Homo sapiens: one gene and its partners. The protein of the gene in region 7 interacts with the protein of the main gene of each other region in a pairwise test. Each region holds a gene or a part of one and is shown on either strand. Other genes may lie near its edges. The genes, in order: KIAA0408, TTC23, CAMKK1, ZNF497, UBAC1, IQCF2 and PRPS1.

The links.
Region 1: the proteins of PRPS1 (region 7) and KIAA0408 interact in binary tests that used the Homo sapiens proteins (3 or more experiments, as listed by UniProt).
Region 2: the proteins of PRPS1 (region 7) and TTC23 interact in binary tests that used the Homo sapiens proteins (3 or more experiments, as listed by UniProt).
Region 3: the proteins of PRPS1 (region 7) and CAMKK1 interact in binary tests that used the Homo sapiens proteins (3 or more experiments, as listed by UniProt).
Region 4: the proteins of PRPS1 (region 7) and ZNF497 interact in binary tests that used the Homo sapiens proteins (3 or more experiments, as listed by UniProt).
Region 5: the proteins of PRPS1 (region 7) and UBAC1 interact in binary tests that used the Homo sapiens proteins (3 or more experiments, as listed by UniProt).
Region 6: the proteins of PRPS1 (region 7) and IQCF2 interact in binary tests that used the Homo sapiens proteins (3 or more experiments, as listed by UniProt).

What each region holds. Positions count from the first base shown.
Region 1 is NC_000006.12:127,437,906-127,440,147, reverse strand, and holds the end of KIAA0408 (uncharacterized protein KIAA0408), read left to right. Parts: 3' UTR 1-1,742; downstream 1,743-2,242.
Region 2 is NC_000015.10:99,159,082-99,162,581, reverse strand, and holds part of TTC23 (tetratricopeptide repeat protein 23), read left to right. Parts: intron 1-714; coding exon 715-842; intron 843-3,500. UniProt on the Homo sapiens protein: Participates positively in the ciliary Hedgehog (Hh) signaling.
Region 3 is NC_000017.11:3,883,054-3,886,553, forward strand, and holds part of CAMKK1 (calcium/calmodulin-dependent protein kinase kinase 1), read right to left. Parts: intron 2,678-3,500; coding exon of another isoform or gene 2,635-2,677; coding exon 2,275-2,634; intron 1,375-2,274; coding exon 1,327-1,374; intron 885-1,326; coding exon 831-884; intron 428-830; coding exon 376-427; intron 123-375; coding exon 1-122. UniProt on the Homo sapiens protein: Calcium/calmodulin-dependent protein kinase that belongs to a proposed calcium-triggered signaling cascade involved in a number of cellular processes. Phosphorylates CAMK1, CAMK1D, CAMK1G and CAMK4. Involved in regulating cell apoptosis.
Region 4 is NC_000019.10:58,356,805-58,359,751, reverse strand, and holds part of ZNF497 (zinc finger protein 497), read left to right. Parts: intron 1-1,166; 5' UTR 1,167-1,263; intron 1,264-2,102; 5' UTR 2,103-2,116; coding exon 2,117-2,947. UniProt on the Homo sapiens protein: May be involved in transcriptional regulation.
Region 5 is NC_000009.12:135,934,922-135,937,373, forward strand, and holds part of UBAC1 (ubiquitin-associated domain-containing protein 1), read right to left. Parts: intron 1-2,452.
Region 6 is NC_000003.12:51,860,354-51,863,924, forward strand, and holds IQCF2 (IQ domain-containing protein F2), read left to right. Parts: upstream 1-1,261; 5' UTR 1,262-1,313; coding exon 1,314-1,331; intron 1,332-1,504; coding exon 1,505-1,597; intron 1,598-2,633; coding exon 2,634-3,017; 3' UTR 3,018-3,071; downstream 3,072-3,571.
Region 7 is NC_000023.11:107,635,010-107,638,509, forward strand, and holds part of PRPS1 (ribose-phosphate pyrophosphokinase 1), read left to right. Parts: intron 1-3,500. UniProt on the Homo sapiens protein: Catalyzes the synthesis of phosphoribosylpyrophosphate (PRPP) that is essential for nucleotide synthesis.

The DNA of each region.
Region 1 (2,242 bases), on a different chromosome or scaffold from region 7:
TTGGGAATAAAATCATGATACTTAAAATCTGATACACATTTCAATGATAGTATTAATCCAATAGGTTAAATTAACAAATTCTTAGGAAAAAAATCTGTTTATATGAAGCTATGGAGAAATCTAGAAAGTAGGTAACGGTTTAGATTTTGAGGGACCTATGAACTCAGAACAAGTTCATTTAGAGGTGGGAAACCTGAGATTCAAAGAGGTCTGCATGGCTGCCAAGATTGCAGGGACAGAATCCAAGCCTGGGCTCACTCATGATCTGCTCTCCTGTATAAATGTCCCATGTGCATCTATGACCTTATTGTTTGCAAAGCAAATTCATATTCCACGACTTGTCTGCTTCTTACAACAAACTACAAGGCAGGCATTGTGATTTCTAAGTAAGAAGGAAAAATTAAGTAGTCAAGATAATATTTAGAATAAATATTTTTGAAGATGATAGTTAAATAGATGGCTCTTCAGACTCCTAGCTCAGGCTATTTTTCCAGCCTTCTTTTCCCAAGGAAGAGAAGACAAAAAAAAAAAAAGATTGAACAGCTCTTTTTCATTTTTGTTTTGTTCATTTTATACATGACACAAATTGTTTATCTTGCTCTCATTGGGAGTTTCTGTTGATTCCCTCTTTCAATGATCATCAAAAGTCATCACCCCTGACTTAAATGGTTTTATGAAATTCAAGAAGTTGTGAACAAGGCTTTAACAAAATATTTCCACTTTTAATGCCTATGCTCTGATTTTATATAAATTTTGTATGTAGGACATGATGTTGAAGTAAAACCAATAAATAGCCAATCAGTATTCATCTCTAGCGTCAACTGAATCCTGACCTCAATCTTCAAAAGAATCAGAATAGTTTCACACTTCATAAGTTACATATACTCCAGAATAAATAAAAGCAGTTTGCTTGAAGTATTATCTTGGCTCATTTGTGCTGCTATAACAAAACACACTTGAGACTGGGTTATTTATAAAGAACAGAAATTTATTTCTCTACAGTTCTGGAGGCTGGGAAGTCCAAGATCAAGCTGCAAGCAGATTCGGTGTCTGGTGAGGGCTGCTGTGTGCTTTCAAGGTGGTGCCTTATTGCTGTGTCTTTATATGGCAGAAGGGGCCAACAATGGAGAAACAGCAGAATAGCAAGAAGCAGCTGAATGCTATGTGATGCTTCTTTTATAAGGGCCTTAAATCCCATTCATGAAAGAGAAGCCTTCATAATCCAATCACCTCCTAAAGGCCCTACCTCTTAATATTGAAGATTAAGTTTCAACATGAATTTTGGAGGTACGTATTCAAACCATAGCAAGCATACAGTAATTTCCAATATAAACCTCACTCAAAATTACAGTCACATGCTGCACAAACCAGTTCAATGCACATATATGATGATAAGATTATAATACAATATTTTTGCTATACTTTTTCTATGTTTACATATACAGATATCATTGTGTTACAATTGCCTTTAGTATTCAGTACAGTAACATGCTGTACAGGTTTGTAGCCTAGGAGCAATAGATCATACTTTCAAGCCTACCATCTAGATTTATATAATTACACTCTGTGATGTTCGCTCAGTGATGAAATCACCTGAGAACACGTTTCTCAGATCATATCCCTGTTGTTAAGCAATGTGACTGCAATTGTGCTCTGCTGCCAGTTTATTTTTGAAGCTTTATTTTTCAATTACTTACTCATGGCAATTTTATAAGAATCATTAAACAAATTTAATCCAGCTATTTGGGATCTGCAGATTTTTTCTTACATAATGCTGACCAGTCTCAACACCAAATTGTCTAACCTGAATTATATATTTGTTTATTTGAATATTTTCTTAAAATTTTCTGTTTAAAATTAACCCAGTAAAGGGTTTTTTGAGTTAATGATATCTGTAGTAAAATAGTTCATTTGCAATGAAAGCCAGAGAAGCACCCACAATATTCTTTAGAGGAAGCTACATGTAGGAGTAATAGGGGGCAAAAGTCTCCATCTGTGAAAACTCAGGAGGTAAATGATTGGGAATAAAGATTCTTCCTAGAAAAGCAGAGGTAAGGAGAGAGATACTGAGACCTGGCATGCCACCTAGTTAAAGATGGTGGCCATGTAGCCCACAGAGCCAGAGCTAAGTGAATTTATGAGGTATTCTACTTAGCAAAAGCAAGCATCTAGGCTTTCCAGACAGATCCAGGGGCTGGGAAAAGCACTACATCGAGGACTCCAGGGTGGACAGTGCTCACAG
Region 2 (3,500 bases), on a different chromosome or scaffold from region 7:
TAGTCCTGCTCAGGCTTAGAAAACCCCAGTACTAGTAGATGGACCTTTTTTCTAATATGCTTACGGGCCATTCAACCTCAGCTCCCGCTCACTTCTCTGGCTTTTAGTTCTCTCGTCATTTTCCATACCTGAGGTTTTCTTTTTCTTGCATTCAAGATTGGCATGCATTTAAAAATATTTGTGTTATATTATAACCAGTATGTTGAAGTATTTGGAATGATTGGGGTTTTGAATGATTTCTTCCCTCAGCGGCATGTCAGCAATATTTTCCAGATTTTTCATGTTTTAGAAATATGTACCAAGATTATACTCCAAATCCATCAAAATAAGTGAACTTTCAGAGTCCTACCCTCAGTAAAGTCATAGTTACCCTATAACTAAAGTTATAGGAAGAATTAGTGGTTGATCAACCTGAAAACTTACCAGTGTGTTCAGATGTGGGGCATAGTTTCTTCTTTTGCAGTAACTTTTCTTTATGTATCACCGGGAAAGCTAGATGTATGAAAATTAAAGAAAGTAAATTACGGTATCCTTCAAGACCTAAATCCTTTCTAATGAAACAGGCAGATTAATGGGCAAAGGACAGTCTTAACTGTTTTTTCTTGTCCCAATACCTCTTTCCAAATAGCTCAACACTGCTAACAGTATATTTATTCTGTTTCCATTTCAAATCTGTGAGCAGTTTTCAAAGTTATGATAAATGCTTTTCTTCAGATGTAGCTGAGCAGTATTTTCAAGAGAGCATGGCTCATCTTAAGGATTCTGAAGGGATGGGAAGAACCAAATTTCTTTCAATTCAAGATGAATTTTGCCATTTTCTACAAATGACTGGACAAAAAGAGGTAAGTGAGTTTGGATCACAATTGTCTAGTTATTCACAGTTGATATCCAAAGGGCAACTCCTTTACTCTGCAAGCATCCATTAAGCATCTACTGTGTGCAAAGCATGTGCCAGTCTCTAGAGGGACACATAAATAAGGCTAGGGCTCCTTTGGGGCAGCTTCCAGAGATACTTGCTCTTAGAAGCTGGGAGACTTTATGAGAATATAGATTGTCATGCCCACCTACAAAAGATCCTAAAGAAATAGTGGACAGGCCCTGCTTATTGAAGTCCTGCAGATCTGGCTGGAATAGTGTGGCAGTTAGTGTGTCTAATCCCTCTCTCCTCAGTTTGGGTAATGAATGGAGTTTGCATGTCTAAGGAAAACTATACGGTGCAGAAGTTACAGCTCAGTTGTTTAGTATTGATTCGTACAAGCGTGATTTACGTGGCTTATGAAAATAGAGCAAGACCCAGACCTTATATTCATTGGGAATTAAACCCTTGGGAATGCATTCCCTGCAAAGCCTAACATACCATTGCTTTATGTTTTTATATATGTGTGTGTGTGTACATATTAATACATATATATATATACAATCGCCCACAGATAGGAACAATTATATATATGTGTGTGCATATATATGTATATATGTATGTGTGCATGTATGCCCACACCCTCTTCTCAGCGCACCTAAGTCCTGTTTACTTTTCACTCCTCTCCGTTAAGTTTTTTTTTTTTTTTTTTTGAGACAGAGTCTTGCTCTGTCACCCAAGCTGGAGTGCAGTGGTGCAATCTCAGCTCACTGCAACCTCCGCCTCCTGGGTTCAAGCAATTTTCTGCCTCAGCCCCCCGAGTAGCTGGGATTACAGGCCCCCGCCACCATGCCCAGCTAATTTTTTTGTATTTTTAGTAGAGTTGGGGTTTCACCATTTGGCTAGGCTGATCTTGAACTCCTGACCCCGTGATCCGCCCGCCTCAGCCTCCCAAAGTGCTGGGATTACAGGCGTGAGCCACTGCGCCCGGCCTCTGTTAAGCTTTTCTTATCAGAGGTTAACGCCATCTCAATTTCCTAGAAAACCATACATACATACATATATACACACTCACACACATATATATATAGTTGTTCCTCAGTATCTGTGGGGGATTGGTTCCAGAGCCCCCAAGGATATCAAACTCCAAGGATGCTCAAGCCCTTGTACAAAATGGTGTCACATTTGTATATAACCTAGACAAAGCCTCCTGAATACTTTATATCATCTCTAGATTGCTTATAATACCTAATACAATGTAAATGCTATGGTAGTAGTTGTTACACTGTATTTTTTATTTGTATTGTTTTTATTGTTGTATTGTTATTTTTATTGTTTTTTCCCATATAATTTTTGATCTATGGATATGGAGGGCTGACTATGTATTTTTTTCAACTCTAACCTATCATGGCAAATCTTGGAAATGAAAAACTTTATTTCCCTTACCGTCTGTAGACCTCCTCCCCCACAGCTCTTTTCTCATCCTTAATCCCCCCTCCACCCCCGCCTTCTGTCAGCTAGGGAACACGGGCTTTTATGCCGATATACCTATGTTTCTCAGGCCAAAGTAGGGCCACAATCACCAGGACAAATTGGAGTTTCAGGATGTTTCTCAGTCACCCAACCCCAGGGAGAGAGAGGGGCCTTCCAGGGGCCTCAGACTCCCTCCCCATTCCCCCCTCACATCTCTAGAAGACAAGGGGAGTGCTCAGGTCAGAATAATGGGGTAGGTTTGCCCCCTCATGCCCCACTCCATCTAGTTCCTCAGCCATTTTTTCCTCCAAAATAGATCTTGAATGCATCCATTGTTTTCCATCTTTAGTCCTGCCACTCATCATCTCTTGCCTGGACCGCTCTAACAAGTTCCTATCTCTCAGCTGCTTTTTCCATGCTTGCCCTCTTCTAATCCACTCAGAATAAGGAAGCCATGGTGATGTTTCCAAAAAGCAGATCTGACCACTGAACACTCACTTGTAAAAGCCAGTCCACTGGCTCCCCGATGCCCTCAGGATAAACCAGAATCCTGACATGGCCCACAGTACCGTCCACGACCTGGACTCCACTGACATTTCCAGGCTCATTTTTGCCTCCTCTCCCTGATCCATGTTCCTGCCACACTGGCCTTTTCTAATTCCCACTTCCGGGCAGTGCCAGCTTCTGTTTCCTCCTCCTGGAAGGCCCTTCCTCATTCATCTCCAGGCCAATGCTAACCCATTCTTCATTTCTTACCAGCTTCTCTGATTCCTCTCCCCAGGCTTCATTAGATACTCCCCATTATTCTTCCTTAGAGAATCCATTTGATGTCATCAAATATTTGTAAGTATATATTCATGTGGATATTTAACATCTATCTTGCAACTAGACCGAACCTGTGAAAGCAGAGACCCTCTTGCCTGTGGTGAGGAGTGATGAGCAGAGAGGTGGATGCATGTTTGGCCACAGGCCAGCTGACTGTTCTGACTCCTGTGGGCCATGCATCAGTTCCCCTGTACTGCCTGGCTTCCCACCATAGTGTCTTGCTGAGTCAGCCAATGCTCAGTGTCACTGATGCTATGCCTCACTGCCCTTGCCCAAGTCACCCAGATCAGTGTTGATCAAAAGATGCACCTCACTCTCCTAAGCTGCCCTCGAAGATTTTAGCAAA
Region 3 (3,500 bases), on a different chromosome or scaffold from region 7:
GACCACATTCACGTGGTCCAGCTTCTTCAGGATGGCAATCTCCTGGTACACCCGCTCCAGGGGCAGCAGCTGCTTGGCTGGTCCTCCCTGGGCAGCCTGGGACCCTCTCGGGGGAGGGCGACCTGTGACCAGGAAGAGAACTCAAACACCTGTTCCAGGTGGCTGGGCCTCACCGTGGCCCCCAAACCAGTCTCAAGCAAGAGTCTTGCATGCCCGTGGTCTTGTCCCAACCCACAGGGCACATTCTGTCCCCAGGCCTCTGCTCACGCTGTCTCCCTCTCTACCCCATTCCTAGCCAAAACTAGCTCAGGATCGAGGTCTCCTCCTCTGCCTCCAGGCTAGGAGCTCCCAGGGACAGGATCAGAAGATACATACGTGGAAAGCCATACTGCTTCAGTAACTTCTTTTTGGAAAGGACTTTCATTGCCTAAGGAAGGAGGGACAGAAATGTCACTACTGTGCAGCCACCAGGGGCTAGAACAGGCTGGTACATGTGGACTGAGGTCCGGAGAGGCACACTGGACATCTGCTACTGGCCCTGAGGGTGTGGCCCAGGTAAGTGTTAAGCGGGGTTGGGGGTGGCCATATCTGAGCCTAGCCCTTCCCCTTATTCCCCCAGCAAGCCTTTCTGGAGCTTTCCCCTCAGAGGAATCCAGTCTCTGCTTGCATATCCCCAGGGTTAGGAAGCTCATTCCTTTGCATACCCCTAGGGACAGGGAGCTCACTCTCAGGCAGCCCTGTCCTCTATCTCCTAAGCACAACTCCTGCCCCACCCCTCAGGCTTCCAGGGCCTGGCTTGGGCAACACCTCCCTCGTATCCCCAGACTCACATAGTGTCTGTCTTCACTTTCGTTGTAGGCCAGCCTCACCACACCGTAGGCACCCTGCAGATAGGCATCAGTCAGCCCCACCTGGACAGGGCAACCCCTCCCAGGACCAGCTCAGGAGGTGGGGAGCCGAGCAGCTCTGGTCTCTCCTGCACCCCATCTGCACTACCCACCACCAGCTGGCTCACGGGCAAATATTGTAGCAGATGGGGAGGGGACTCCTGCGCCCTGGTAACTGCCCCTGCTTGGCTCCACATGGCTCCATGCCTCCCTCAGTCCCTCCTTGTCCACTGTCAAGAACTCAGAGAGTCGGGAATCAGGAGCCATCTTCCACCCTCCCCCTGGGTACCTGGGTACTTCCCACAGGGCACGAAACTGTCCTCACCTCCAGGCTAGGACTTGCCTGGCTCTGCCTCCCGTTCCCTCCCACACGAGAGAAGGAGCAGCGCCAAACAGAGAATCCCGAAGCCCCCACTGCTCTCGGCCTGCCCACTCCTACCTTGCCAATCTCACTCTGCAGCTTGTACTGGTTCAGCTGCACGCAGTCCTGTGGGGGAAGAGCGAGCACCAGGTGGAGCTGGGTCCGGAGGCAGCACTGCTCCTACCTCAGAGCCCGTTCAGGGTCCAATTCTGGCCATAAGCTCCTCATTCCCGGACCCCCAGGTCTCACCAAGCTTTTGAGTTTGGATGGGGAAGTTGGTGGTGCCATCGCCCCCGTATGTGACGAGAAGACGTGGCTCATGTTTGAAAACATGGATGGTGACGCCATGGCTGTGCCTTGTTCCCCAGAAGCAGTGGTGAAGGGAAAACGCTAATTCCTGTCTGGATTCTGGAGTCTGGAAGACCCTAATCCATGAGAAACCCATGAGCAACTATTTCCAGAAGCAGCTGAATGAGAAGGTCTAGACTCCAAGGACAAGATGAGGAGCCCTGGGCACAGAGGCTGAGAGCCTGGGTTCAGGCACAGAAAGCTCAGCCCCTGACATCTGTAGACTGCTTGGAACCTGAGTTCACTTTCAGACCTAAATGGCAAGAACTCCAGCAGAAGCCCAGAGGCTGGAGGCAGGCCGGCCGCTTCTGAGTCACAGCAGACTCTAAGAGGCAGAATTAGAGGCGAGGGGTGCAAGCTGGAGAAGAGTTAGGGGGGAAGGGGGACATAGCATCTATCTTCACATCTCTAAGAAGACTACATAGGGGACCAGGGAGAGACCTATTTCCTAGGCCTGGGCTGGGAGTGGGAATAGCAGGACTTAGGGAAGGCAGCCTTTGGCTCAGCTGGAGCTCCCCTGGTTGGGAAGAAGCTATATTGTTAGGTAGTGATCTCCCCAGCTCTGAGGGTATGCAAACCAAAGCTAGATAGCCGTGTGGCACAGACAGGGGCAGGAAAGAGTCTTCATTGCAGACTACTGAGGGGCTCATGAACAACCCCTCGTTCTGCCCCACCAACCTCTGCATCTGAGATGGCCACGTGGTGGGACTCGATGGTGGGCCTCCGCCAGGCCCGGGGGGAGATGTGGCTGGCAGGCCCCGTGGCATAAGGCCCAGCCTGCGCCTCCAGATAGCTTCCTGCTGGCCGCTCCTGTAGGGAAAGCTTCCTGGCTGAGAGGCTAGGCCGGGCTGGGAGCAGTCTTGAAGTACTGCCAGGGATCACAGAGGCAGCTCTGGCCCGTGGTGGGGGGTCCACACCGTTTCTAGTAGGCTCTGGGCCACCATCTGCCTCCTCCAAGTGAGTCACATCGATGGCTGCCACCCGTTCTACCAGCTCTGCCCGAGGATCCTGGCAGCAGACAGCTGGACCCCCCTCCATTGCTTCAGTCAAGGGGGTTCTTCTGCGTAGCCTTGTTGGGAACCTGAGAAAAGAAGGCAGAGAAGGCTTCACTCCTGGGTGTCAGGCTGGCTACCAGGTAAGGTAGCCACAGCGCTGTGGGTCCCACCTCCATGCCTTTGCCCTGGCTGTTCCCTCTACCGGGATTGCCAACACCCAAACTCAAGTCTGTCCCTATGACCTGAATGAATTCACATCGGTTCTGCCGCATGCCAGCCCTCTAGGCCTCAGTATCCCTGCCGGTAACAGAGGCAGTCACTTCTGCCTGCTGGCTTCACAGGGAAGCAGAGAGAATCTGATATTCTGGAATCAGGACAGACAGGGCAGAAGCCTGGAGGCCCAGCAGCACTGGAAGGGGCAGAGCCCAGGGTCAGCTCAGCCCCAGCACAGCATGCAGCCCTGTGAGTCATGAGTCCCAACCCTTGACAGCAGAGCACTCCGACACTGCCTCCTGGAAGCTGAGCTAGACACTAGTAACTCAGAAGCCTTGCTGATGCTTCAGACCCACCCGCCTCCTCCAGGGAGCCCTCCTTGATGTTTCAGCCTCCTACCCCCATCCCTCTCACTGCTTCCAGGAAGACTTCCCTGGGGCTCCCGACTCCAGCCAGCCCTGCCTCATTGACGTCTGTCAAAACAAGGGGATGGGCCCCACATGGTGGCTCACACTTGTAATCCCAGCACTTTGGGAGGCCGAGGCAGGTGGATCACCTGAGGTCAGAAGTTCGAGACTAGCCTGGCTAACATGGCAAAACTCTGTCTCTATTAAAAATACAAAAATTAGCCAGGCATGGTGGCGTGCACCTGAAATCCCATCTACTCGGGAGGCTGAGGCAGGAGAATCGTGTGAA
Region 4 (2,947 bases), on a different chromosome or scaffold from region 7:
TCCACCCACCTCGGCCTCCCAAAGTGCTAGGACTACAGCCGTCAGCCACCGCACTTGGCCTAACTTAAATTTTTAAAACACTTCCTGGAGGGGACAAACAGGACCCATCTGCTGGTCTGACTCTGGGTGTCCTGTTCACAGTCTCTGTCTTAGTTGTTCTGTGTGTGGGATGAAGGGTGCCAAGGAGACAGGGCAGGGCAGGGACCCTCAAGAAAAGCGGGGAGGCGGGGGGAAGGGATGGTACAAGCAGCCATGGCACCTCAGTGTGTCCCTCAGGCACCTGGACACACAGGTGGGCAAAGATGCTGACACTGGGGGCCAGAAACGCCGATACCCCCATTCTTCCATTTTTACTCAGTCTCAGGTGGTCCCAAGGAGGGGACCTTCGTGGCCTTGCTGTGCTCACAGGCTCACCTTTGTGTTTCCAGCTGCAGAGAAAGTACCCTGGGCCATGCAGCTGCACTCCCCTCCCAGGAAAGGGGCAGGATGGCTGCCCAGATGAGTGAGGCATCAGCCCTGGCCCCCCAGGTCTTCCCGAGTCCACTGGAACTGATGGTGGGTGAGCCCAGCTCCAAGAGCCCTGGCCAGTGCTTCTGGGGGTTCTGCTATGAGAAGGCAGCAGGGCCCCGAGGGGCCCTGGCTCAGCTGCGTGAGCTGTGTTGCCAGTGGCTGATGCCTGAGGCCTGCTCCAAGGAGCAGATGCTGGAGCTCTTGGTGCTGGAGCAGTTATTGGGCACACTGCTCCCAGAGATCCAGGCCTACACGCAGGAGCAGTGGCTAGGCAGCCCTGAGGAGGCCACTGCCCTGGCAGAGCGGCTACAGCAGGAGTCAGCTGGGCCAGGACTCCAGATGAGTGGGGGCTGGTCTGGGGGCTGGGTGTGCTTCCCCTGCTCACGACCCCAGCTGAGCCAGCACTGGGGCCAGTCGTGGGTTGGTGGCTGAGAGGGCCTGGGGGCTGTGGGAAAGTGATGGTGACAGGTGGGAGTTTGGTGGTCTTGGCTTGGACGGCAGAGTCAGAGATCTCCAGTCCACACCTGTGTGCTCCGCATTGTGTCCTGAGAACTGAAGGTGCAGAGAAGGGTGGGTCATGCCACCGCATGCCCCTTGTTTTCTCAGATCTGCTAGGCTGAACACCTCACCCTGCCCTGCTGCCTTCCTGTCCCCAGGTGCCAGCCCCCAGGCCCCAAGAGGAGCTGGTCCCCAGGACAGAGGAGGGAGAGGAGCAAGAGGCTCCCCTGGGCCCCTTCCAGGCCCCACCTCCAGGTATGGCACCATCTACACACTTGTCCCTGCCCTGCCTTGGCAGCGGGGCTGGAGACTACACAAGGATGATAAGGTGCTCAGGGCAAATGAGGATGGGTTTTGCTCGCTGTAGAGACTTCGCTGTGGGAAGGATCGGCTGGACAGGCAGGCATGGCCTTAGGACCAAGGAGGCCCTCCCACCCTTGGCCTCTCTCTCTCTCAGGGATCTGGGCTGCACAGCCACCCCATGCCTTGGACCACCTGGTCTGACCTGCACAGAGGCCTGGTGTGGACATTGCCTGGGTAACAGCCACTGAGATCCTCCAGCCTGGACATGCTGCCCATACTGTGTGGAGGGGACTACCCAGGGATCCGGCCAGGGTGGAGTGGGTGAGGCAGACATAGCTGTGTTTGGGTCAGGCGGTGTCCTCCAGCCTTCAGGAATGGAGACGGGTCCATCGTGTTCCTCACAAACTGGAGTCTCCACCTTCTTGACACTTGGGGCCCCACCCTGTGAAGCAAGGAGAGGAGAGTGGTGCCACAGTAGGGCCAGTGCAGGTGCGTGGGCAACTTTGAGTCCTTCTGCGATGCTGGCGCCCCCTCCCCTCCTGCTGGGCCGGGCCGGGTGTGGGGATGTGCACGTGGCCCTGTCAGGCAGGCCCAGAGTGCTGGCCCATCCCCCGAGTGTCTAGCCCGCCTGCTGGCCTTCCTGCTCCAGGCTCCAGAGGGCATTGGGCATCCAGGGACCTGGAGGAGAAGAGTGGGGGATGACAGCCCACCCACCGTCGTGTCCCCCTCAGGCCCTCTGTCTGGTGTTCTTTGTATTCTCTAAGGTACTTGCCTTTTCTCTCCTGTTTTAGGTCACAGGCGCGAGATGGAGTCCCCAAGAGGGTGGACCCTGCAGGTGGCCCCAGAGGAAGGCCAGGTCCTCTGCAATGTGAAGACTGCCACGAGGGGCCTCTCTGAGGGGGCTGTGTCTGGAGGCTGGGGGGCCTGGGAAAACTCCACGGAGGTTCCGAGGGAGGCAGGGGACGGCCAGCGGCAGCAAGCCACACTGGGGGCGGCGGACGAACAGGGAGGCCCCGGCAGGGAGCTGGGCCCCGCAGACGGTGGGCGGGACGGGGCTGGGCCCAGGAGCGAGCCTGCAGACCGGGCGTTGCGCCCTTCGCCTCTCCCAGAGGAGCCGGGCTGCCGGTGCGGGGAGTGCGGCAAGGCGTTCAGCCAGGGCTCTTACTTGCTGCAGCATCGGCGCGTGCACACAGGCGAGAAGCCGTACACGTGCCCCGAGTGCGGCAAGGCCTTCGCCTGGAGCTCCAACCTCAGCCAGCACCAGCGCATCCACAGCGGCGAGAAGCCCTACGCTTGCAGGGAGTGCGGCAAGGCCTTCCGCGCGCACTCGCAGCTCATCCACCACCAGGAGACACACAGCGGCCTGAAGCCCTTCCGCTGCCCGGACTGCGGCAAGTCCTTCGGCCGAAGCACCACGCTGGTGCAGCACCGACGCACGCACACGGGCGAGAAGCCCTACGAGTGCCCGGAGTGCGGCAAGGCCTTCAGCTGGAACTCCAATTTCCTGGAGCACCGGCGCGTGCACACGGGCGCGCGGCCGCACGCCTGCCGGGACTGTGGCAAGGCCTTCAGCCAGAGCTCCAACCTGGCCGAGCACCTGAAGATCCACGCGGGCGCACGGCCACACGCCTGTCCC
Region 5 (2,452 bases), on a different chromosome or scaffold from region 7:
CCAGGCTGGAGTGCAGTGGAGTGATCATGGCTCACTGCAGCCTTGAACTCCCAGACTCAATGATCCTCCCACCTCAGTCCCCTGAGTAGCAGGGACTACAGGTACGTGTGCCACCACTCCTGGCTGATTTTGTTTTTTTGTTTGTTTGCTTTTTTAGTAGAGAGGAGGTCCTGCTATGTTACCCAGGCTGGTCTCGAACTCCTGAGCTCAAGTGATCCTCTTGCCTCAACCTCCCAAAGTGCTACAATTACAGGCATGAGCCACCATGCCCAACCTGAGGAAGGACTGTCTTCTGTATATCCTAACTTCTGTATGTCAGAAAATGCCACACAAAATTAGAGAGCAAAAACAGTTTACAACATTCAACAAAGGAAGATGTGCCTAATATCCAAGAAGCTATTAAGGAAGCTCTAGGATTAATATTGCAATTGAAAAACACATGTGCCAGGCACAATGGCTCTCGCCTACAATCCCAGCACTCTAGAAGGCAGAGGTGGGGGGAGCGCTTGAAGCCAGGAGTTCAAGACTAGCCTGAGCAAAAAAACGAGACCCCATCTCAACAACAACAAAAAAAATAGCTGGGCATGGTCGTGCATGCCTGTAGTCATAACTACCCATGAGGATGACTTGAGCCCAGGAGGTCAAGGCTGCAGTAAGCTGTGATTGTACCACTGCACTCCAGCCTGGGTGACAGATCAAGACCCTGTCTCCATAAAAAGAAGGAAAACAAATAGATGACACGCATAGACAGTATGTAAAAGAAGAAATGCAATGGCCAACAGAAAAGTATTCAACATTGCTAATAACCAAAAGGAATGCAAGTGGCCAGGCGCAGTAGCTCAAGCCTGTAATCCCAGCACTTTGGGAGGCCGAGACGGGCGGATCACGAGGTCAGGAGATCAAGACCATCCTGGCTAACACGGTGAAACCCTGTCTCTACTAAAAATACAAAAAATTAGCCGGGCACGGTGGCGGGCACCTGTAGTCCCAGCTACTCAGGAGGCTGAGGCAGGAGAATGGCGTGAACCCGGTAGGCGGAGCTTGCAGTGAGCTGAGATCGTGCCACTGCACTCCAGCCTGGGTGACAGAGCGAGATTCCATCTCAAAAAAAAAAAAAAAAAGAGGAATACAAGTTAAAACAATGAAGGTCTTGTCTATAATATGGAGGTGGGCAAGTGTGTGTGCTGGGGGCAGATCTTGCATGGACAGTGGCGCCATCACTGCACTCTAGCCTGGGTGACAGAGAAAGAGCCTATTTCTATTAGGAAAAAAAAAAGAAAAAGTTATTGGACAGACCCCAAGGCAGCACACACTAACATCCTAAGGTATACAAACAGCTGGAGAGCTAGGAGGAATATGCTTTCAGTGTGAAAGGAATCACTAAGAATAAAAATAAACTCACAAAAGACCATTCTCAAGTTTTAGAATTTGGGTACAAAGAAGATCCCTACCTCACACCACACACATACTTCTAGGTAGATTATGGACTTAAATTAAGAGAAACTTTTAACATTTTTGGAAAAAAAAATAAAAGGAAAACGTGTTTCTGACTTTCGGATAGGAGGGTTTTCCTTTTTCTTTTTTTTTTTTTTGAGGTGGAGTCTTGCTCTGACGCCCAGGCTAGAGTGCAGTGGCACGATCTCGGCTCACTGCAACCTCCGCCCCCCAGGTTTAAGCAATTCTCTGCCTCAGCTCCAGAGTAGCTGGGATTACAGGTGCATACCACCATGCCCAACTAATTTTTTGTATTTTTAGTAAAGACAGCGTTTCACCATCTTGGCCAGGCTGGTCTTGAACTCCTGACCTCGTGATCCACCTGCCTCAGCCTCCCAAAGTGCTGGGATTACAGGCGTGAGCCACCACGCCCAGCCATGGAGGGTTTTCTTTAAAGGTTCACATCTTAAAAAAAATACAGACACACTGAAGGACATCAAAACACGGGATTCTGCCCATCAGTGTGAGGAAATAAACCAGAAACTGAACAACGGCATCTGCAACACAAATAATGGGAAAAGGGTCAGCATCCAGGAGGTGAGGACCTTTCTGAATGAATAAGAAAACAATCCAAGAGAAAAGCAGGCCAAACGCTGAGCGGAAGGTCTCTCACAGCCAAGGTTCTACAGGCGGCCAATACGCTTCTGAAAGAAGGCCAGCCTTCAAGATCAGGGCACGGCCATCGCAGCTCCAGAGACACTTCCAGCCTGCTCGGGTGGCAAAGGCCCTCCCAACATCCAGGAACTCAGCTCCTGGGGACCAACAGGTCTGTAATCCCAGCACTTAGGGAGGCTGAGGCAGGTGGATCACGAGGTCAGGAGTTCGAGACCAGCCTGGCAAACATGGTGAAAGCCGTCTCTACTAAAATACGAAAAATTAGCCAGGCGTGGTAGTGCACGCCTGTAATCCCAGGTACTCAGGAGGCTGAGGCAGGAGAATTGCTTGAACCTGGGAGGCG
Region 6 (3,571 bases), on a different chromosome or scaffold from region 7:
ATAAATACATACTTTAAAAAATAAAAGAACAAAAAAATGAAAAAAATAAATAGCCAGGCATGGTGGTGTGTGCCTGTAGTCCCAGCTACTCAGGAGGCTGAGGTGGGAGGATCACCTGAGTCCAGGAAGGTCAAGCCTGCAGTGAGCCAAAGTTGCACCACTGCACTCCAGCCTGGACAACAGAGTGACACCCTATCTCCAAAAAAGAAAAAGAGAGAAAGAAAATCATTTTCTCTTAGTGTTCAAATTTGTCACCATCAATATTTCCTTGTATTTATTTAAATTTCCCTGTGGCTATTTCACCTTTTTCATTCCACTTCATTCTCTTGATTACCCAGGTTGGTAAACTGTGTATCTTTAAAACTGGTCTTGTCAGAATACTGCCTTTTAAATTTATTTTCCACTACCCATCTTTGTTTTCTATGCATTAATTTAAGTTTTGATCTTTATTTGACTGCTTTCCAGATTCATCTGGTGTATCTTTTTCTAGTTTCCTAAGGCTTTGTGAGGCACCGAGTCAAGGGAAGAGAGGAAGTGCTAAATCTCACCAGACGCTAGAGAGTGATATGGGGATGCACCGTCATGGTCCTCCCTGCTTTGCCATGCTGATGATAATGAGAAGGGACTGTGGATGGACTTCACATGAGGAGAGCCCTGCTATGGAATGGCACTCAAGTGCTCTATTTTTCCACCCTCAGCTCTGACACATCTCTGACAGGAGGCAAGCAGACACATGGTACTGAGGAGAGAGGCCATTTCTCTTACTGTCTCCTGTCTCTGAAGAGAATGAGGAAGTAAAAGCTGAAGAACAACAGGAATGAAGTCAGTGGCAAGACCAACTGGTGCCACTGACCAGACCTGAGATTGAAAGATTAACCCTCCCCACCCCCAACTCTAACCACATGTGCTCTCAATCTATCACAACACTTTCACATGGACCCCTTAGAGTTGAAAGCCCTAAAAAGGGCCAGGTTTCACATGGACCCCTTAGAGTTGAAAGCCCTTTAAAGGGCCAGGAACTCTTTCTTTAGGGAGCTCGGTTCTTGAGATGCAAGTCGGCCAATGCTCCCGGGGGAATAAAGCCTCTTCCTTCTTTAACCCAGTGTCTGAGGGGTTTTGTCTGCAGCTCATCCTGCTACAGTACAAGTTCCCCTGGAGTTTGTTTCTGACAGAGACACATCTCTGTGGCAGATGTCCCAATCCCTATGTCATAATGCAATTGTGAATTCAGAGCTCTCTCCTCACTCACGTTACTCATGCCAGACCTTGGGAAGCAGAGAAATCAGGGCTAATGAACCATCTAAGGACAGGCCATGAGGGTTCGATTTTGTGTAAGAGACATGGCCAGATCTATTAGGTGGACCAGGAATGGGTGGGTATCTCCCTGGGCTTTACAGGACTTGAGAAAAGAGAGGATGTTAAAGTAGTAATTGTCTTTGTATAGAGCCATAGAGAGAAACAGTCTTAACTCATTTATGTACTTCCCATTTAATTCTGATGACAGACCAAAGGCAATTTAATTTTGGTTATAATTGAGGATGTTGAAGAAAGCATTGAATGGAAGACATTGCAGAAGAAGAAACAGCAGAAAATCAAGGTGAGAAGAATTCCATGTACTTAAGAGAAATCCAGAACATTTATAACTACATCATAAGGTGTAGGACTTTGCCTCTTATCAATCCAGGGTCTAATTAGGAGTCAACTCAATGTTGGCTCATTTTTCCTCCATTCTCTTCTCAGTCTGGGCTGTCTGGATCTGGGCCTGACTGAGATATTGAGAGTGATTGGAAAGAATGAAAGCCTTGGGAGGCCGAGACAGGCAGATCATGAGGTCAGGAGATTGAGACCATCCTGGCTAACACGGTGAAACCCCATCTCTACTAAAAATACAAAAAATTAGCCGGGTGTGGTGGTGAGTGCCTGTAGTCCCAGCTATGCTACTCAGGAGGCTGAGGCAGGAGAATGGGTGAACCCGAGAAGCGGAGCTTGCAGTGAGCCAAGATCACGCCACTGCACTCCAGCCTGGGCAACAGAGCGAGACTCCTTCTCAAAAAAAAAAAAAAAAAAAAGAATGAAAGCCATCAAGAAATGCATAAGGCTGAGAGGTGAGAATGTGAGAACTTGGAATTAGAGAGTAGACTGTTCAAAATATGGAAAGACTTGGAGTAGAATATGTGGTCAGGGTATTGAAAACCTACCATAGTATCAAAATATGGTCATAGCAGACAGAAATCAGCCAGTGGTGGTTTGGGGCTGGAATTAGCAGATAATTACCAGGCAGAAGGTTATGAGGCCTTTCCAAACCCAGTGAGCACCAAAGAGGTGAGTGTGACTAACAAGGTCCCACACATCCCTATTGCACCCTTCTAGTTACTAATGGTTTTTCCCTTGATCCATGCACTGCAGAAATAGTCTGCAGAAGAACTCTGTGACTCTAAGATTGAAGTGATGTGCCCACAGTGGCAGAGGAAGGTCACCACCAGGTCTGATGGCTCCTAGTCAGTGTCCTGCTAACTTCCCTGAATTCTGAGGAAGGGCTGTGTTTTGAGAGAGAAAATCCAGGCTCCTTCCAGGAAGATCCTAGAAGTTGGTGGCAGGAAGTTTTCTGACTGATCGCTCTTGTCTCTGCCTAGGAAAAACTTAGAATAAGAACAAAAGCAGCTGTAAAGATCCAGGCCTGGTGGCGGGGCACCCTGGTGCGCAGGACACTGCTGCATGCAGCCCTCAGGGCCTGGATAATTCAGTGCTGGTGGCGGATGACGCTGTCGAGGGTGCTGGAGAAGAAACGGCAGGCAGCTCTGATCGCCTACGCAACCAGAGAGAGGGCAGTGATCAAGCTCCAGTCTTTGGTCCGTATGTGGCGTGTCCGCTGGCGATACTGCCAGGTGCTCAATGCCATCTACATCATCCAGGGCCACTGGCAATGCCACAACTGCCAGACCTGCGCTCTCCTCCAGGGCCACTGTGTGGTCACAGCCACTCACCTGCAGTTCCACATTGAGATCATCAACTCCTAAGGGCTGGCAAGAAGGGCACTGTGTCTACTGTCCCTATTAAAGGTCTAACCTGGTCTGGTGTGTCTCATGGGCTCCCCCAGCTAATGGGATTCTTGAGACTTGGACCTTGCTGCCTCCTCTTCTCCCTGAGAAAGAATTTCAGTGAGGTTTGCCCCCTGTGTCCAAGGACCCTGTTTTGGACTGACAATGGCCATAGGAAGCCCCAGTCTGCTCTGATATATGACAGAGCCAGAAATCCCAGTTCCCATCCCCAGCCTTATTTTCTTCTCACCGGGGGATCTGGGAGGCAGTTGGGCTCCATCTTCCTGAAGATTCTGGGCACCTCTGCACATATGGATGGACTATTGGGCCCTGCTCTGTCAACCTAGAATCAAGGTCGGCTGGGGTTTGGGATGCCTCAGTTTCCTCTTTGGCAAGCACCTAGATGGAAAGGCAATATTTGGCTGATTCTCCTGGGAGCAATGTAGTGCAGCCCCAGGTGAAGGATAAGAGGCTGGCCTTACTGGTAGGTGGGGCTGGGGCTAGGCATGCTAATGATTAGGTGGTGACCCTAA
Region 7 (3,500 bases):
TTTTGTATTTTTTAGTAGAGACGGGGTTTCACCGTGTTAGCCAGGATGGTCTCGATCACCTGACCTCGTGATCCGCCCGCCTCGGCCTCCCAAAGTGCTGGGATTACAGGCGTGAGCCACCGTGCCCAGCGATAATGATAAAGTTTTAAAAACATAGCAGAATAGCTTGTCCCTTATACTGTCTGATATCAATTGTCAAACTACATTTGTTCATTTGTTCTCCAACTTTTAATCAAACATCCTGACTCTGGCAAGTGAATGTCTGGAGCACAGATGATACTCTGTGTTCTTGACTGAAACAAGAGCCATAGGCTTCTGATACATGATTGGAAATCAATATGCCTGCCTGACTTTCATTCTCCTCCAGGGAAATGCATATTTTGGTCAAGGAGCTGATATATGGAGGATGAATGTGAGCAGCATTAAAATTTTCTGATTTTTTTTTTTTTTGAGACAGTGTCTCACTCTGTCACCCAGGCTGGAGTGCAGTGGCATGATCATGGCTCCTAACTCCTGGGCTGAAGCAATCCTCCCACCTCAGTCTCCCCAGTAGCTGCAATCACAGGCACTTGCCACCATGCCTAATTTTTAAATTGTTTTGTAGAGAGGAGGTCTCTTTATGTTACCCAGGCTGGTCTCAAACTCTTGGGCTCAAGCGGTCCTCCTGCCTCTGCCTCCCAACCACAGACTTGTTTAACATAAAACCTAAAAGTGACTCTTTTAGCTTGAAATCTCTCGAAGGGCAGAGCTAGTAGTAAAGAAAGATCTGGGCCAGACATGGTGGCTCACACCTGTAATCCCAGCACTTTGGGAGGTCAAGGCGGGCAGATCACGAGGTCAAGAGATCGAGACCATCCTGGCCAACATGGTGAAACCCCATCTCTACTAAAAATACAAAAAATTAGCTGGGCGTGGTGGCGTGCGGCTGTAGTTCCAGCTACTCGGGAGGCTGAGGCAGGAGAATCACTTGAACCCGGGAGGTGGAGGTCGCAGTGAGCCAAGATCGTGCCACTGCACTCCAGCCTGGCGACAGAGCGAGACTGTCTCAAAAAAAAAAAAAAAAAAAAACTGAAAACGTCCCAAAAGTCCCTTGAAATGACCACTGCCTGTTTGTTTTGTTTTGTTTGGTTTGAGACGGAGTCCCGCTCTGTCACCCAGGCTGGAGTGCAGCGGCTTCATCTCCCCATACTGCAACCTCCGCCTCCCAGGTTCAAGCGATTCTCCTGCCTCAGCCCCCTGAGTAGCTGGGACTACAGATGCATGTCCCCACGCCTAATTTTTGTGTTTTTTGGTAGAGACGGGGTTTCGCCATGTTGCCAAGGTTGGTCTTGAAATGGGGAGCTCAGGCAGTCTGCCTGCCTTGGCCTCCCAAAGTGCTGGGATTACAGGCATGAGCCACTGCGTCCAGTCTTAAAAAAGGTTTATCCTAAACTAGTGCATTTTCTTTTTTGTTCTGGCTGCCAGGAATCTCAGCTTCCTTGATTTTAATTGGTTTCTAGTTTGATTTTTTTTCACTTGCTTTTATTTTTCTTGCTTTACAACATAAACTAACCCCATTTGTCTTTTCTTGCTTTTGAGATGAGGGTCTTCCTGTGTTGTCCAGGCTAGACTTGAACTCCTGGGCTCAAGCAGTCCTCCTGCTTCAGCCTCCTGAGTAGCTGGGATTACAGGTGTGTGCCACCACTCCCAGCTCCCTTTCATCTTGGGTTAGAAAGGAATAAATAAGTAATTATCTCCTATGTCAGCTTCTTCTGGCAATAGAATTGCCTCTGCCAGTTTTCATATAAGTCCCTTTTGGAGTTCTCCTTGAAGTTTTGTTTGGGGAGAGAAGGGTGGGTAAAAGTGATCTTGACAGAAATAGGACAGTAGGTAGTTCCTGAAGCCACACAGAAGATAGTGCTTAGAGTGAGATAGAAGTATGGATCTTTTATTTAATAACTCTATTGCCTTTTGATTTGAACTGAAGTTTTCTCTTGTTCAATAGGTATTGTCAGCCATTCTGATCTACTTGTCTATATACACACATACACCTCTCCTTCACCTAGAGGATTAGTTGGAATATAATGTTGTTTGAGGTATCACTAAGGTGATTTTTAAAAATTTTTAAATTATTTTCTTTTTTTTTTCTTAAACCTGGTGAACAGGAGAGGTGATTTTTTTTTCTTGGTAGAGACCCGAGTATGGGCACTGAAACTTTCGTGGTAAAATATAGCCCTACTTCATACTTAGAGTAAATTCCTATGGAGTTACTTAGTAATTGGACCAGAGTACAGTTAACACAGAATGAGGGCAAGGACCACATTTTATTCACCATTGTTTCCCTAGCATCTAGTACAGTGATGAGCATATGAACATTTAATATTTACTGGGTAAATTGCCAGTATGGTAGAGGTGGTACTGTCTTTTGTTAAAGTGTCATTATAGAACAGTAGTGATTCACTCCTTATGATATTTCTACTTCTTTTGCTATTTATGGACTCTGTAACAGTAATAGGTGATGCATCAAATTTTATGTACATCACATGTACCTATATGAAATGAGATACAGGCCACCTGCTAAAATTATGGTCCGGTTATTTGTAAGTACTTTAGACTAACATGTGCCAACCATTTCATGCATCTTTTTCGTGTCTGTCACATGGTAATATTAGAAAATATTACCATAGAAAATGGTAATATTTGTATAGTGCACTGGAGTAAACTGAGGCAGTGAACTGCTTCTGGTATAAGGCTCCTTCAGAGGATCTCCTGAAGCCTAGGTGATCAATATCCACATGTAGCTGTAACCATTCACAGCATACTAGTAGGGAAGCTGTTCTTAGACCTTATTGTCTATAGAAGTATAGTAAAGTCATCCCTCAGTATCCACAGGGGATTGGTCCCAAGACCAAATCTGCAGATATGAAATAGTGTAATATAAATATATATATATATATATATATTTTTTTGATATGGAGTCTTGCTCTGTCACCCAGGCTAGAGTGCAGAGGCACGATCTCTGCTCACTGTAATCTCTGCCTCCCGGTTCAAGCAATTTTTCTGCCTCAGCCTCCTGAGTAGCTGGGACTACAGGTACCTGCCACCACACTCAGCTAATTTTTTTTTTTTATTTTTATTTGAGACGGAGTCTCACTCTGTTGCCCAGGCTGGAGCGCAGTAGCGTGATCTTGGCTCACCGCAACCTGTGCCTCCCGGGTTCAAGTGATTCTCCTGCCTCAACCTCCCGAGTAGCTGGGACTACAGGCGTGTGCCACCATGCACGGCTGATTTTTATACTTTAGTAGAGATGGGTTTTCACTGTGTTGGCCAGGCTGGTCTTAAACTCCTGACCTCAGGTGATCCACCCATCTTGGCCTCCTAAAGTGCTGGGATTACAGGTGTGAGCCACCACACCCTGACTAATTTTTTTATTTTTAGTAGAAACGGGTTTCACCATGTTGACTAGGCTGGTCTTGAACTCCTGACCTCAGGTGATCCGCCCACCTCAGCCTCCCAAAGTG